3 separate regions of the Homo sapiens genome follow, and all the other regions are linked to region 1. Evidence: fine-mapped expression QTL. A gene starts in region 1. Each other region holds a variant in brackets. All regions are shown on one strand. Distances are from middle to middle. Region 1 holds the start of NALF1 (NALCN channel auxiliary factor 1). Region 2 overlaps NALF1 (NALCN channel auxiliary factor 1). Region 3 overlaps NALF1 (NALCN channel auxiliary factor 1).

Evidence for each region. PIP is the estimated chance that this variant, and not a neighbour inherited with it, causes the effect.
Region 2: its variant is the best candidate, but not a certain one, in a credible set for the expression of NALF1 in thyroid (GTEx, PIP 0.84).
Region 3: its variant is the best candidate, but not a certain one, in a credible set for the expression of NALF1 in testis (GTEx, PIP 0.51).

What each region holds. Positions count from the first base shown.
Region 1 is chr13:107,865,297-107,869,540 of GRCh38, forward strand. NALF1 (NALCN channel auxiliary factor 1) reads right to left here and starts at 2,200. Exons shown (of 3, transcript NM_001080396.3): 1 at 386-2,200. The coding sequence starts at 1,300. It overlaps LOC124903206 (heparan sulfate glucosamine 3-O-sulfotransferase 4-like), which reads left to right and starts at 1,377. Exons shown (of 1, transcript XM_047430833.1): 1 at 1,377-4,244. The coding sequence starts at 1,601. The coding sequence ends at 2,164. RefSeq lists an enhancer at 2,668-3,236.
Region 2 is chr13:107,830,420-107,834,663 of GRCh38, forward strand. The region is part of intron 1 of NALF1 (NALCN channel auxiliary factor 1); the gene reads right to left. The region is part of intron 1 of NALF1-IT1 (NALF1 intronic transcript 1); the gene reads right to left. Among named protein-coding and RNA genes, the nearest start is that of NALF1-IT1, 2.9 kb to the right of the region's middle. The variant G/A (reference allele first, on the strand shown) is at 2,471.
Region 3 is chr13:107,769,342-107,773,585 of GRCh38, forward strand. All of the region lies in intron 1 of NALF1 (NALCN channel auxiliary factor 1), which reads right to left. Among named protein-coding and RNA genes, the nearest start is that of NALF1-IT1, 64 kb to the right of the region's middle. RefSeq lists an enhancer at 1,111-1,664. The variant T/TTGTGTGTGTG (reference allele first, on the strand shown) is at 1,907.

The sequences.
Region 1 (4,244 bases):
TCTGACTTTACCTGTGAGCATCAGTGTGCAGTCTCATTGCTATTTTCCTGACAAGACTTTTTCAACTTCCTTTTCTTAAAAGATGTAACAGAGTTTGAGCCAACTGCATGAATGTAAGAAACAGTTAAAGTGCCAGCTTGATTATCTCAGATAACCGGGGACTTCCCTGATCTTCCAAGGACTCCCAGAAGAAGGCATCAGTCAGTCCACCAGCAATCCACCAGGTATTCTCATCTCAAACAGCAAGCCAAGCTCTTAATAACCGCAGAAAACACAAAGTAACAAAACCATAGCCAAAAAATAATAATAATAAACTTGAGAAGACACCCCAACCAAGCAGAGATAGGAAAGTGCAGGAAAGGGGGAAACCCCCGAGGGTTCCTACCTTACAGTCTTCAGGACAGGATTTCACCGAGTACTCCTCCGACTGTAAATATTTGTGGAGCACGCTTTCAAACTCTTCGTATTTCTCCTGAGCATGGTGGTCATAGTCCTGGTAAGCCTCGACGCACTGCCTGCAAGTGGTCATCTCGCCGCCTTCCTTGAGCACCACATCCAGACTGCAGTTCAAAGTGTTGGGACTGGACAACCCCGAGAACAACTCCCAAAGTGTGTAGGAATTACAAAACGAAAGGTAAAAATCCGACAAGTTCCAGAGCGGAGTGGGATGCTTGCTCCTCACCTCCTGCCCGTCCCCCCCGGCCGCCCCCCGACTCCAGTTCCTGGCGCACACCGCGTCCGCATTCTCCACCGTGAAGCACTGGCCCGAGGACGCGCCCTGGGGGTAACAAGTCTCCAGGCGCCACACGGGCTTGGCAGAGTTTCCTAGAAAAAGAGCCTTGCCCCGGTCGTCTTTGCCTCGGTTGCCCTTGCCGCCGCCGCCGCCGCCGTCTCCCGGGGAGGGGGGCAGGGTGGGGGACGAGGAGGCGGAGAGGAGTCTGTGTGCCTGGGCGGCGGGCGAGGACTCCCCCATGCTCGCCAGGAGCGCGGGCCAGGAGGGCTCCTGCTGCCGCCGCTGCTGCTGCTGCTGCTGCCGCTGCCTCTGCTGCTGCTGCTGCTGCTGCTGCTGCCGCTGCTGCTGCTGGTGCTCCTTGTCCCGGGCCCGGGTCAGCTTGGCCTCGGCGCAGAACCACAAGTGATCAGAGAGCAGGACTGTGAAAAACAAGAGAGATGCCAGAGACAGTCGCCATTTCTGAGCCCTCTCGGAATCGATGAACGGTTTCTCGTTCTCTCGGGGTGCTGCCAACCAGATTTTTAAGCCGTCGTCATACTGCCGACACATCCAAGCACCCCTGGTCATATTTTGGGAACGCACAGCCCTGGCCGACTCCACCGTGAGGGCGCCTGTGCCGGTGTCACCACAATATGCATTGACTTAAAGGGTTTAATTTCCTTATCCCCTCCTCCCGTTTCTTCTCTCTCCTCTCTCTCTTTCTCTCTCTTCCCCTCTCCCTCTCTCCTCTCTCTCTCTCTCCCTCTCCCTCTCTTTTATCTCTCTCTGTCTCTTTTGCCTACATAAATATTACCAGGCTTTGAAGGAAGGTCTGACTTGCTTCCTAATCATCAGCCGACCCCATCCTCTGTAGAGTGGGAAACAATAATGGAGAGAGAGAGAGAGAGAGAGACGGAGGAGGCTGGTGCTGGTGGCCGGCGGCGAGGCTGGGTGCAGGGGGCGATGGTGGAGGTGACAGGGTGGCTGGCGCGGCTCCGGTCACCCAGGCATTGTCAGCGCGCGGGTCCCCATGGCCCCGCGGAGCCCAGCCCGCTCTCCCCTGCCAGGGGCATGCCGCGCCTCCGCTGCCCACTGACGGCGCCCGGAGCGCCTCCCCTCCTCCTCCTCCTCCTCCTCTTCTTCTCCTCCTCTTCCTCCTCCTTCCTTTCCTTCTCCTTCTTCTTCTCCTCCGCCTCCCGCTCCTGCTCCGCGCTGGCTCTCCCAGAGTCCGGAGCCTGGGCTGCCTCCGGCGGGGCGCTCCCTCCCCCCCACCCCCCACCCCGCGCTCTAAGTGCTGCCGCCGCCGCCGCCGCCGCCGCCGCTGCCGCAGGGCCGCCCGCGGGCGCCGCCGCCGGGGCTCCGACTGCTGACGCCGCCTCCCGCGGAGCTCCGGGCCGAATCGCCTGGGCTGGGCCTCCCGAGAGCCACAGTCATCTTCAGTCCGCGGGCTAAGTTGCCGCCATCTTCGTCCTGGAGAAACACTTTTTTGGGGGGAGCGCTGGCTTTTGCGTCATCTCCTCCCGCGCCGAGCTCGCTCCATCCTGGCGCAGTGGCGCCGGCTCGGCCCGGGAGGAGGGAGAAGGCGCGCGGGGGCGGGCGGCGGCGGGGCCGCGGGGCCCGGGGGCCCCCGCCCGGCTCCCCGGGCTCAGGCGCCTGCTCTTTCCTTTCTGTCCCCCTGTCCACGATATTTTGTTTTAATCACTGAAGAGAAAAATAAAAGTCAGACTGCGGACGGCATGGCCGGTGAGGCTCCTCGCGGCCGCGCCGCCCGCACGCTCTGGCTCCGGGAAGCGTCCGAGTTGCAGGCGCCCGGGCAGAGGTCTCTACTGGTGCGAGGGTCTGGGCAGAGTCCTCTCAACTAAGGACCGAGCCACTTCGGATGGAAGGTGGGGGTCCGCGGAGGAAGCTCGAATTGGCTAGAGGAGGGATGAGGTGACATTTGGTCTCTGAATGCGTCTCGGATCCCGGACCGCGAGATCCATCGCTCCCAGTGCGTGCAGTTATTCCGTCCTGCTGTGTGACACGGGAGAATGGCGCGCACGCCTGTGCACCTGCATCGACCGTGTAGCTGCCTGGGTGACAGCCACCCATTTGTCTATGTTTTCTTTCCTATTCTAAAGTAAACGATTAGAAGTGGCCTCATAGAGTCTTAGGAAGAAACAGTAAGCCCTGTGCCACCCGGGGTCACTGCCTAGCCCTGCCCTCCGCGCGCACCGTCCGCGTCTCCGAGGGCTCCTCCTCGGACCTGGACCCTCTGGAGCGGCTTCGACCCTCCCTCTGCCCCCGCTGCCTGCGTCCAGACCCCCTCCCGGGTGGGCTCCTCCGAGGACCTCCGCAGCCGCGGGCGAGCTGGGTGCCTGCGAGTCGCCGCCGCAGTCTGAGCCTCTGGTGCCCCTTAGCGTTGGCTCTCGGAGTTCTGAGAAGGGAAAGGAGACAGACACTCTGGGAAAATCTGGGGTCACCTCGATTCCGGCTCCTACGCTGGATGCCGTGGGCAAGCATCGGTCTCCTTTGATCTGAAGATCCTGCCCACTCCGCCCCTTGCCCCTGCCAGACCCGCGGGAGCAGCAGGTGGCGTGGGTGCCAGACGCTGCCGGTGCGCACCGAGTGCAGCGCTGCCCCGGCTCGCCCCGGGGGTCGCGTGGGACAGCGGTTTGCGGTGTCGCCCTCTCTGCGGTGCTTTCCAAGGACCCTCATGCCCCGCCCGGGTGCACATTCACCACATGGGTCTTACTAGGTGACCTCTTTCTAAGTAAAATGCATTGAGAAACCAAAGGGATGGGGCATCCGTATCCATTTTCCTTTAAGGAGCGCTGTGGGTGTTGGGGATGCGGGAGAAGTAGGTGTTTTTTAAAGAGAAAATTGCAAAACCTCTTGGGCAGGATTCGACCTACTAGCCTCTTCTGCTGCATAATAAGGTACTGTATACACTAAATTTTACCCCTAAAAATTTTCAGTTCTTACCAACTATAGGTAATGATCATCCAAAAGCCGCGTCCTGTTTGATGGCTGGTTTACTCAAGTGTCATGTAGTGTTTTAAAAGACGATTTGTGTAAGTAGATCATTCTAGTACTTTCGATTTCAGTGTGTTGAATTTCTGAGTAATGTCAGTTTTTCCTCATAATACAGACAAAATTATTATTTATTAACCAGATTGTTTATTAATCAGGACTGTACTGTACATGCCACAATATTTCTTAACTAAATACGAGTGCATACATTCTCGCTGACATAACTATTATTATACAAGTACAGTTTGTGCATTGTAAAAAAGGTGTAAAAATCAGAAGAGCAATTTAAAAAGTCATGGTGATATCAACACCCAGATATAATCAGTATTTTCATTTTACAGCATCTTCCTAACATTTTTATTTTGTATTACTAATTTCCTGTTTTGTGATATTCACTAGTCCAGCATTTTCGAAGGATTGAAGTATGATAGAATACACATCCACACTTATTAGATAATAATATATTTCCCTTCAATAATGCATTAATTTTAATCAGACACAAACATTTTAATGGTGGCTG
Region 2 (4,244 bases), 35 kb before region 1:
CAATCGCTCCATATCCCTGCCAACACTTGCTATTTTTTGATTCTGGGACAGCGAACCTAATGGCTGGAAAATGGTAACTCACTGTGGTTTGGATTTGGGTTTCCCTGATGATTAGAAATATTTCACATCTTTTCATGTCTTTTGGCCATTTGTGTATCTTTGCTGGAGAAATATCTATTCAAGCCCTTTGGCCATGTTTTAATCAATTTCGGGGAGCGGGGGGAGGATTCTTGTTGTTGAGTGTTTCCATCCCTCCTCTTTTTCCCTCCAAACACTCTCTCCGTGTGATCTCACCCCTTCCCATATATTTAAGCTCCTTCTGCACCACAGGCCTCCAAAGGGAGGTCAAAGAATGCGATGTGCCACTGACGCATGTGTGTGTGCAGAGATGTCTTCCTTTGCCTTTTGTATTAAACTATGAATGGAATTAAGACTTACTCATATTTAATATGTGGATTAAAATGGTACCTTCACCCCATCCTTATCTCAGATAATCCCATGTCCTACATGAAAAATGAAAGTCCTGGGGGAAATAGGATGTTCCGCAAAGAGCATGGGCTGACAGTGCTGACCTCACTCTGGCTGTGCGGATTAAAGGAGCTCCTTATAACCAGAGTTGTAAAAGATTCCTGCAAAGAAACTGGGACTGAAGAGTGTCCTCAAAATAGAAACACATAAATCAAGAAGAAATCGCAATGCTGACACTTTTCCTACTCTGAATAAGAAATTTTCATTATCCACATTTCAAGGTAAAAACCAAGATAGTTCATCCAGACCTGAAAAACAGACAGTTTAAAAATTCAAATGATCAAGAAGACGATTTGACCTCTGGATTACATTGACTATTGCTAACCATAAACTTTACCGTACATGTATACTGTGCCTTGAGAAACTAAAGAAATCAATAAGATTAAAACTCTTAAAAAGTAAGCCTCGGCACTTAATAAGATTGGCAATTATTCATAACTTAAAGAAATAATATATTAAAATATAGCAGCATTGTATAATAATTTGCAGAGATGGAATGTAGTCATGGCAACATCTTGGGCCCTGCAGAGTTTCGCTGGTTTGGCTTAGGTCAAAGTACAAATAAACTATTTTTCTTAAAAAAAGAAAAAAAAAGACATGTTCTAAAATTACTGAGTAGTGCTGTGATTCAATAGAAAAAAGAGTAAAAAATCTGGAACCAAGCTTGAAATGTAAACATACTCAACGGCACTTCTGAGAAAGGTGATTATATAATGATGAGGTAGAAATGACAGTAACTGATTTCAGGGAAGACATTTAAGCTTTGGAAAGAGTATTTTGTAACAAGATGTTTGCGCGTATTTGCAGCCCCTGGGATTTTGTTGTTGAAAACAATGTATGCCACCTCTCATCTCTGCCCAGACAGAGAACTTTCTAACATATTTCAAAATATTCCAGAGTTTAGCTTCGGTTTAAATTCATTTGATAATAATGCAAAAATTCAACATTCTTTTAGTTTGTAAAGACAGTTAATTTTAAGGAAGATGGGAATTCAAAAATCGCATTTCAATTGTTTGAGGAAAAAAATTTTTCATAATTTGTGGACATCATTAAAATAAAGTCTAATGATTTCATGAAGTCCATATTGTCCTTCCATTTAGAACTACACATTTTGTGATTATCTTTTAAACTATTATATCTGGTACTGAAACCAAAACTGTGACATGAACTGAACCTACAAGTAAATTTTCCAAGCACTTTATCCTAAATATTAAACTAAGATTTTAGAAATAATGATGGATATTCAATCCTATTATTCTACCTTCAAGCTGATAATTAACATGTTATCATTAATATAATATTTATTATATTTAATCCATTCTATTTAAGTAAAAAAGATATTATATATCATTCATAGGCAAAAATGTTTTAAAATATTGCTTACTTCAGCTTTATCTCATCTTATGTAAATATTTTGTATATATACTGAATGTGCATAAATATATACATGCACATTAGTGCTAATGTATTTATATATACATAATATAGCAATAAAATATTCATATTTGGGGTATATAATGAAGATTTGCTAACCCCAGTTGGATCCCACAAGCACCTCAAATCTAATATGTACAAAACTGAACTCCACACCATCACCCTTCAAAAACTTGTTTGTCTGCCTCTCCCGTCTTACGAAATGATACCACCTGCTGCTCACTTGCCTACATTGGAAGGGTCAGGGTCCTTCGCAACTCCTCGTTCTTCCTTTCATTAACATCCATAGAGTCCTGTCCATTGTGGCAGCCAGAAGCCTTTGTCCTCTTCCTTCAACCCTTACAGGCCCCATCTGGTGTGGCTTCTGCTCTCCTCTGTCTCGCTAATTACAAGAATCTCCTAAGTGACCTTCCTTCCTACAGTGCTGCTGTCTCCTGACCCCCAGTTCAAGCCGCAGAAGACTGATCTTTCAAAAACAACAAATCATAGGCTGCATCTTCTTAAGAGC[G/A]CTCAGTAGTTTCCCAATGCCCTTGGATACACTCCAATCTCTTCTTCTTCAGCAGCACAGCGCCTGCTGGCATCTGTAGCCTCCCCTCCCTCACACTCTACCATGGAGCTAGTCAGCACTTTTTCCATTCTTCCTGTGGCCCCTGGCCTCTCTGGTGCTCCACGCACATGCCCCATCTCCTAGCTAATGGTACCCGCCCTGCAGTTTTCTGTGCAGAGGGCCCTCGCTAAGTGAAGCCCTCTCAGATGGTCCCTGCGCCTCCTTTAGCATACCACTTTGAACATACGAAGACACGTCTGATGAATAATTTGAACTGCTTCCGGAACAAGAACAAGGTCTACATTGCTCACCAGGGTAGACTTGGTGACTTGCACAGTGTCTTACCTATACCACACCTTTCCTTAATTGATATGTATTGAATACACATATGAATACTACTGGTATGATTTTACACTCGGTTCAAAATAAGCTCTCTGTTGTCCAATGTGCATTCATGGGATGAAAGTCACCTCCTCTTTTCTTTCTCCATCTATAGGATTATTTTTGGAAAACTATTCCTGCTAGCTGTCTTACACTGTTACTTCTAGCTCTTAAAACAGATCTTCTACATTCAAATCTCCCTATCATGAAGTACCAAATATATTTACTTTCTTGGGTGCCATGTTTAAATGTATTTTTTACTCATGTTCAATGATCATCATCCCCCTTCTCAATCCTTTCCATTACAAAGGTGTCAAAAACAAGATACTTGACATACGAAAGCAATGGGGAAACAGATTAAATCATGAGTCAAAAACTTCTCAACCAATTAGTTAAAATGTTGAAAGAAAGGACAAGCTTTCTGACCACCTGTTACCTAAGGCCATGATAATGCTTCTCATGTAAAGGTATTATTCCATAACATCCTTTTACTTTTTTTCTAATAATAGTATTTTAATTTCCAGTATTTTGCATATTATCTTAATTATATTAAAGTACCTTAAAGCTGTTTTTTTAATTTTTAATAATGCCATTCACTAATATATAAATTTGTAAAACTATGGAAACTTTGAGGAAGAAATTTCAAACTTAATATGGTTGGCCCTCCATATCTACAGGTTCTGTACCCATGGATTCAACTGAGGATCGAAAATATAAAAATAATAATGATAGTAATCATAATAATAAATAACAATATGACAATAAGAATTAAACACCAATTTTAAAAATACAGCCTAATTACTAGTTATATAGCATTTGCTTTGTATTCGGTATTATGAGTAATCTAGAGATGATTTAATGTACATGGGAGAACATGCATAGGTTAGATGCAAATACTATGCCATGTTAAATATGGGATGTGAGCATCTACAGATTTTGGTGTCCATGGGGATCCTGGAACCCAATCCCTCTCAAATACCAAGGGACAACTGTGGTCAATTAGACCACTTAGGACAACTGTGGTCAATTAGACCACTTCTGCATTACATTTGAGCCAGAGAGCAAGAGACTGAATTTTTAACGTTTTTTATAACTGCACAGCTCTTACCATCAATGTCAAGAGTATGGGGAAAAAATGAATGAATCATGCCTTTATTTATCAGCCAAGCTGTGAGAGAGTAGTCATCAGAGTACTGGTCCAACAAGGTTGGCAATTAATGATGCAATAAAGGGTAAACAATTAACTAGTGTAATTAAAAAGATTCTGAATCTCATGTCTAAATGTTACCCCAGACAGCTGGATCATTTGCCTGGAGAAAAATTTACTGTGATTTTTTTACAAGAAAAAATAGAC
Region 3 (4,244 bases), 96 kb before region 1:
ATGGAATACTATGCAGCCATAAAAAATGATGAGTTCATGTCCTTTGTAGGGACGTGGATGAAATTGGAAATCATCATTCTCAGTAAACTATCACAAGAACAAAAAACCAAACACCGCATATTCTCACTCATAGGTGGGAATTGAACAATGAGATCACATGGACACAGGAAGGGGAATATCGCACTCTGGGAACTGTTGTGGGGTGGGGGGAGGGGGGAGGGATAGCATCGGGAGATATACCTAATGCTAGATGACGAGTTAGTGGGTTCAGTACACCAGCATGGCACATGTATACATATGTAACTAACCTGCACAATGTGCACATGTACCCTAAAACTTAAAGTATAATAAAAAAAAAAAAAGAAGAAATAAACACAGGTTTTAGTCCTAAAAAAACGGTTCCATTAACCCTTATATAATCCACCAGTCCCTGATTAAATCACCAGCTGTGGAAAGTTTTGCTGTCTGAGCCTAAAGTATAATGGGTTACCATCACCACTTAGAGAATTCCATCAATATACATCCTCCAAATATCTCAAACTTCAAAATTCAATTTTTTTTGCTTTGTTTTGTTTTGTTTTGTTTTGTTGAGACGGAGTCTCGCTCTGTCACCCAGGCTAGAGTGCAGTGGCGCGGTCTCGGCTCACTGCAAGCTCTGTCCCCTGGGTTCACACCATTCTCCTGCCTCAGCCTCCTGAGTAGCTGGGACTACAGGCACCCGCCACCACGCCCGGCTAATTTTTTGTATTTTTTAGTAGAGACGGGGTTTCGCCGTGTTAGCCAGGATGGTCTCGATCTCCTGACCTCGTGATCCACCCGCCTCGGCCTCCCAAAGTGCTGGAATTACAGGCGTGAGCCACCGCGCCGGGCCCACTTTTGTTTTTTATAATAATGATAATCTCCAACATTAGCCAAAGTTATCTAAGACGTTCTTTTGATTACTTATGCTGTTTGGAGCTGCCTAAAATTCAGAGGTAGTTGTTTAGTTCTCCTTGAAAGTGTAGATGAGGGGTAAAAGGTCAACTCTAAATTGTCAACTCTTTTGCATGCCTAAAACTTTAAAATGTCAAAAATGATTTAATATTATTTATGCATAACAAATTATTCATAGAATATAGAAATGTAACTCTAGTTTATTATTAAATAAGAGCTCTACGTTTTAAGGAAAAATACAGTTCATAAGTACCTACAACTGGGCTTTCACTTCTGAAACAGACTTCAAGTACCATGGTTTCACAAGTAAGTAATATGAACTTTCTTATCCAGTGATCCTTCTAATCACTCTCAAGCCATTGTCCAAATATGTTTCTCCAAAATGCAGGGTTTACTAACAGCCTTTTGAGAGCTGCCTATTGTAATTAGGAAGACATGTTAATGGCCTGGGTGAAATCTCAATGGGCTCATTGTAAATGTTCATTTGATGGCTTTGTTCTCACAGACTTTGTACTAGTCAATTAAATCTTTAATGACCTGACTTACATTTTTCTCTTCCCTTTTGAAATAACTTGCTGATTTCTTTTTTTGCTTTGTTTTCTTTGCTTCTGGCAATCTTTTGGTTGCATTATTCCTTTTGGCCTAAATAGTCTTTGGCCTTTAGCAGACCTTGTGAGTTTCTGGTCTTTTTCCTTCCTAGGAATGAGGGAGCCTGGGTGTAGCTCCTTAAATAAAATCACCTGACATGTTTCCTCAAAGGGGCATAAAACAATTTCATTTGAAATTGTATGTCAAATATCGATTTATCTATCTATGTATTCTATCTTGCAGATTAAATTTGCATTATGTTAAGGACTAAATTTACAAAACAAATCTTACCAAAATGTAAAATTAACAGAACTTTTAAATTTTACTTTCTGGATGTTTCCAAATCCTAAATTTATATATTGGTTTGAGATGTTATTTTAACATG[T/TTGTGTGTGTG]TGTGTGTGTGTGTGTCAGTATATGATAATTACTTGAAATCCGCTTTCAAAAAATGTTTTACAATTGAAAATATAAATAAATTGCAGAAGGCCTATAATTATCATCATAATACATAACATACTTAATGGCTATCAACTGGATTGCATGTCATTTTATGCATACACATATATAAAATATTTGTTTTGTTTTCCTTAACAGCATAAATGTATATATGTATGCATATTATAAACATATATGATACAATATATAAAATCTATAATATGTAATATAGTATAATATATAATATATATTAGTGTCAGAGGCGTTCGAACCAGAGCGACTCCATTTTGAGTCAGTGTTGGGAAAATGAGGCTAGGAGTTGCTGGGCTGCATTTCCAGAAAGGCATTCCTAGCCTGTAGATGTTTACTGTTAAGGGAACAAATTAATAATGTTTACTAAATAGACTCAGACTTGAGAGTGTCCAGATATCCAGATATCTGCAGAACAAAAGCATTTCTTTTCTTTTTTTGACGGAGTCTCGCTCTATCGCCAGGCTGGAGTGCAGTGGCGCGATCTCGGCTCACTGCAGCCTCCGCCTCCCGGGTTCAAGTGATTCTCCTGCCTCAGCCTCTGGAGTAGTTGGGACTACAGGCACATGCCACCACCCCCAGCTAATTTTTGTATTTTTAGTAGAGACAGGGTCTCACCATGTTGGCCAGGATGGTATCGATCTCCTGACCTCGTGATCTGCCCGCCTCGGCCTCCCAAAGTGCTGGGGTTACAGACATGAGAACAAAGGCATTTCTAATTTTGCTTTAAAAATAATAATACTGATTCTTGCAAAATATAGTAATTAAGAAAATTAATCCTCTATCACAAACCCTTGAAGCAGAGCACATCTCCCCATATACACACGTATCGTATCTAGGGTGGACCCGTCCCTCCTCTTACTTTCAGGAACTCCTACTCTGTCTACGGAGTAGCTACACTTTGGCTACTTTACTTTCTTAATAAACTTGTTTTTACTTTGCACTGCGGACTTGCCCTGAGTTCTTTCTTGCGCGAGATCCAAGAACCTTCTCTTGGGGTCTGGATAGGGACCGCTTTCCTATACCATTAGTAGTGAAAATTTTTTAAAATATTGAGGTAAGTGGACCATTTGTCTGATCTGTTATGCATTATTAGAGAGTTTCCATATTTAATGTGAAAAAAACAAAATCTTGTCCTGGCACAAACAATACAATATGTCTCTATTTTTTTGAGATAAGTTCAATGTAAAACATAAATTCAGGGAGTTGTTTCAGGAGTTATATAAATGCTATGTGAAAAAAAGTCCCTAATTAAGAATGTAGGTAATATATCAGTAAAAGCTAAATTAGCCATTGTGAGATTTGCAGCATCATTTACAGCAGGCTTTTCTAAAACATGTTCAACGAGAAAAGAAATTCTGGGGTGAAATATTTGTGGAAAACACTGTGAACTATATCCCTTCTTGGGTCACGGCCTTGACTATTAGCCTGTTAGAAGCCTATTAAAAGCTCTGAGAAGCTTAGGTTCCTATGTGAGAGAAACACTTATTAAAAATCTCTGAAAGCAGTTTTCCATGGAACAAGTTTTTTTAATGCCACATTTTAAAATTCTGTATAAAATCTCTACCATATGTGATTATTTCCCCATTAAAAAATAATGTTTAAATTGTATGCAATGTAAAATTTCAGGATAGATCTTTATTATCTATCACATTTGAAAAGAGGGTTTTTTTTACATTTCATATTTGTTTTATTTAAAGAAGATTAAATGAGTACAGTGTACCTTGCTATGCACCAGCAAGGTAACATGAATAATTTACAATTCCTTTAAGAAGCTCAATGTCATTAAGAAGATGAAACAAAGTACTACTAAGGTAAGCAGTATATTGGCCATGTGTTGTTAGAAGCTAGTTGACTATTGTTTTTCATTCAGAGTCTGACATATTTTACCTTGATCATACTCCAGTTTGATAGATTACTTTCAATTTTCTCATCAGAAATATGAACTGAAGCAAAGATAGTACTAGCAAATGTGAAACTATCTTGATACACATGATAAATCATACTTCAGAGTGATAAATCATACTCAGAATAAACAAGCTCAGAAACAGTGCAGAAAAGACTAATGTCTTTGTTTAAAGCTAATATATGGCTAGACCTCAAGTTATTATGGGATAATCTTGTAATTACTTTGCCATGGGTTAAATAAGCTAAAATTCTGATAAAATAATTTCAAGGACTGATTTCTTATTCTTGTCCTAATTCTATTCCTGTATTTTGAATAATTTTTCTAAAACCAAGTATTATTCTACAAAGATCTCTTATTTT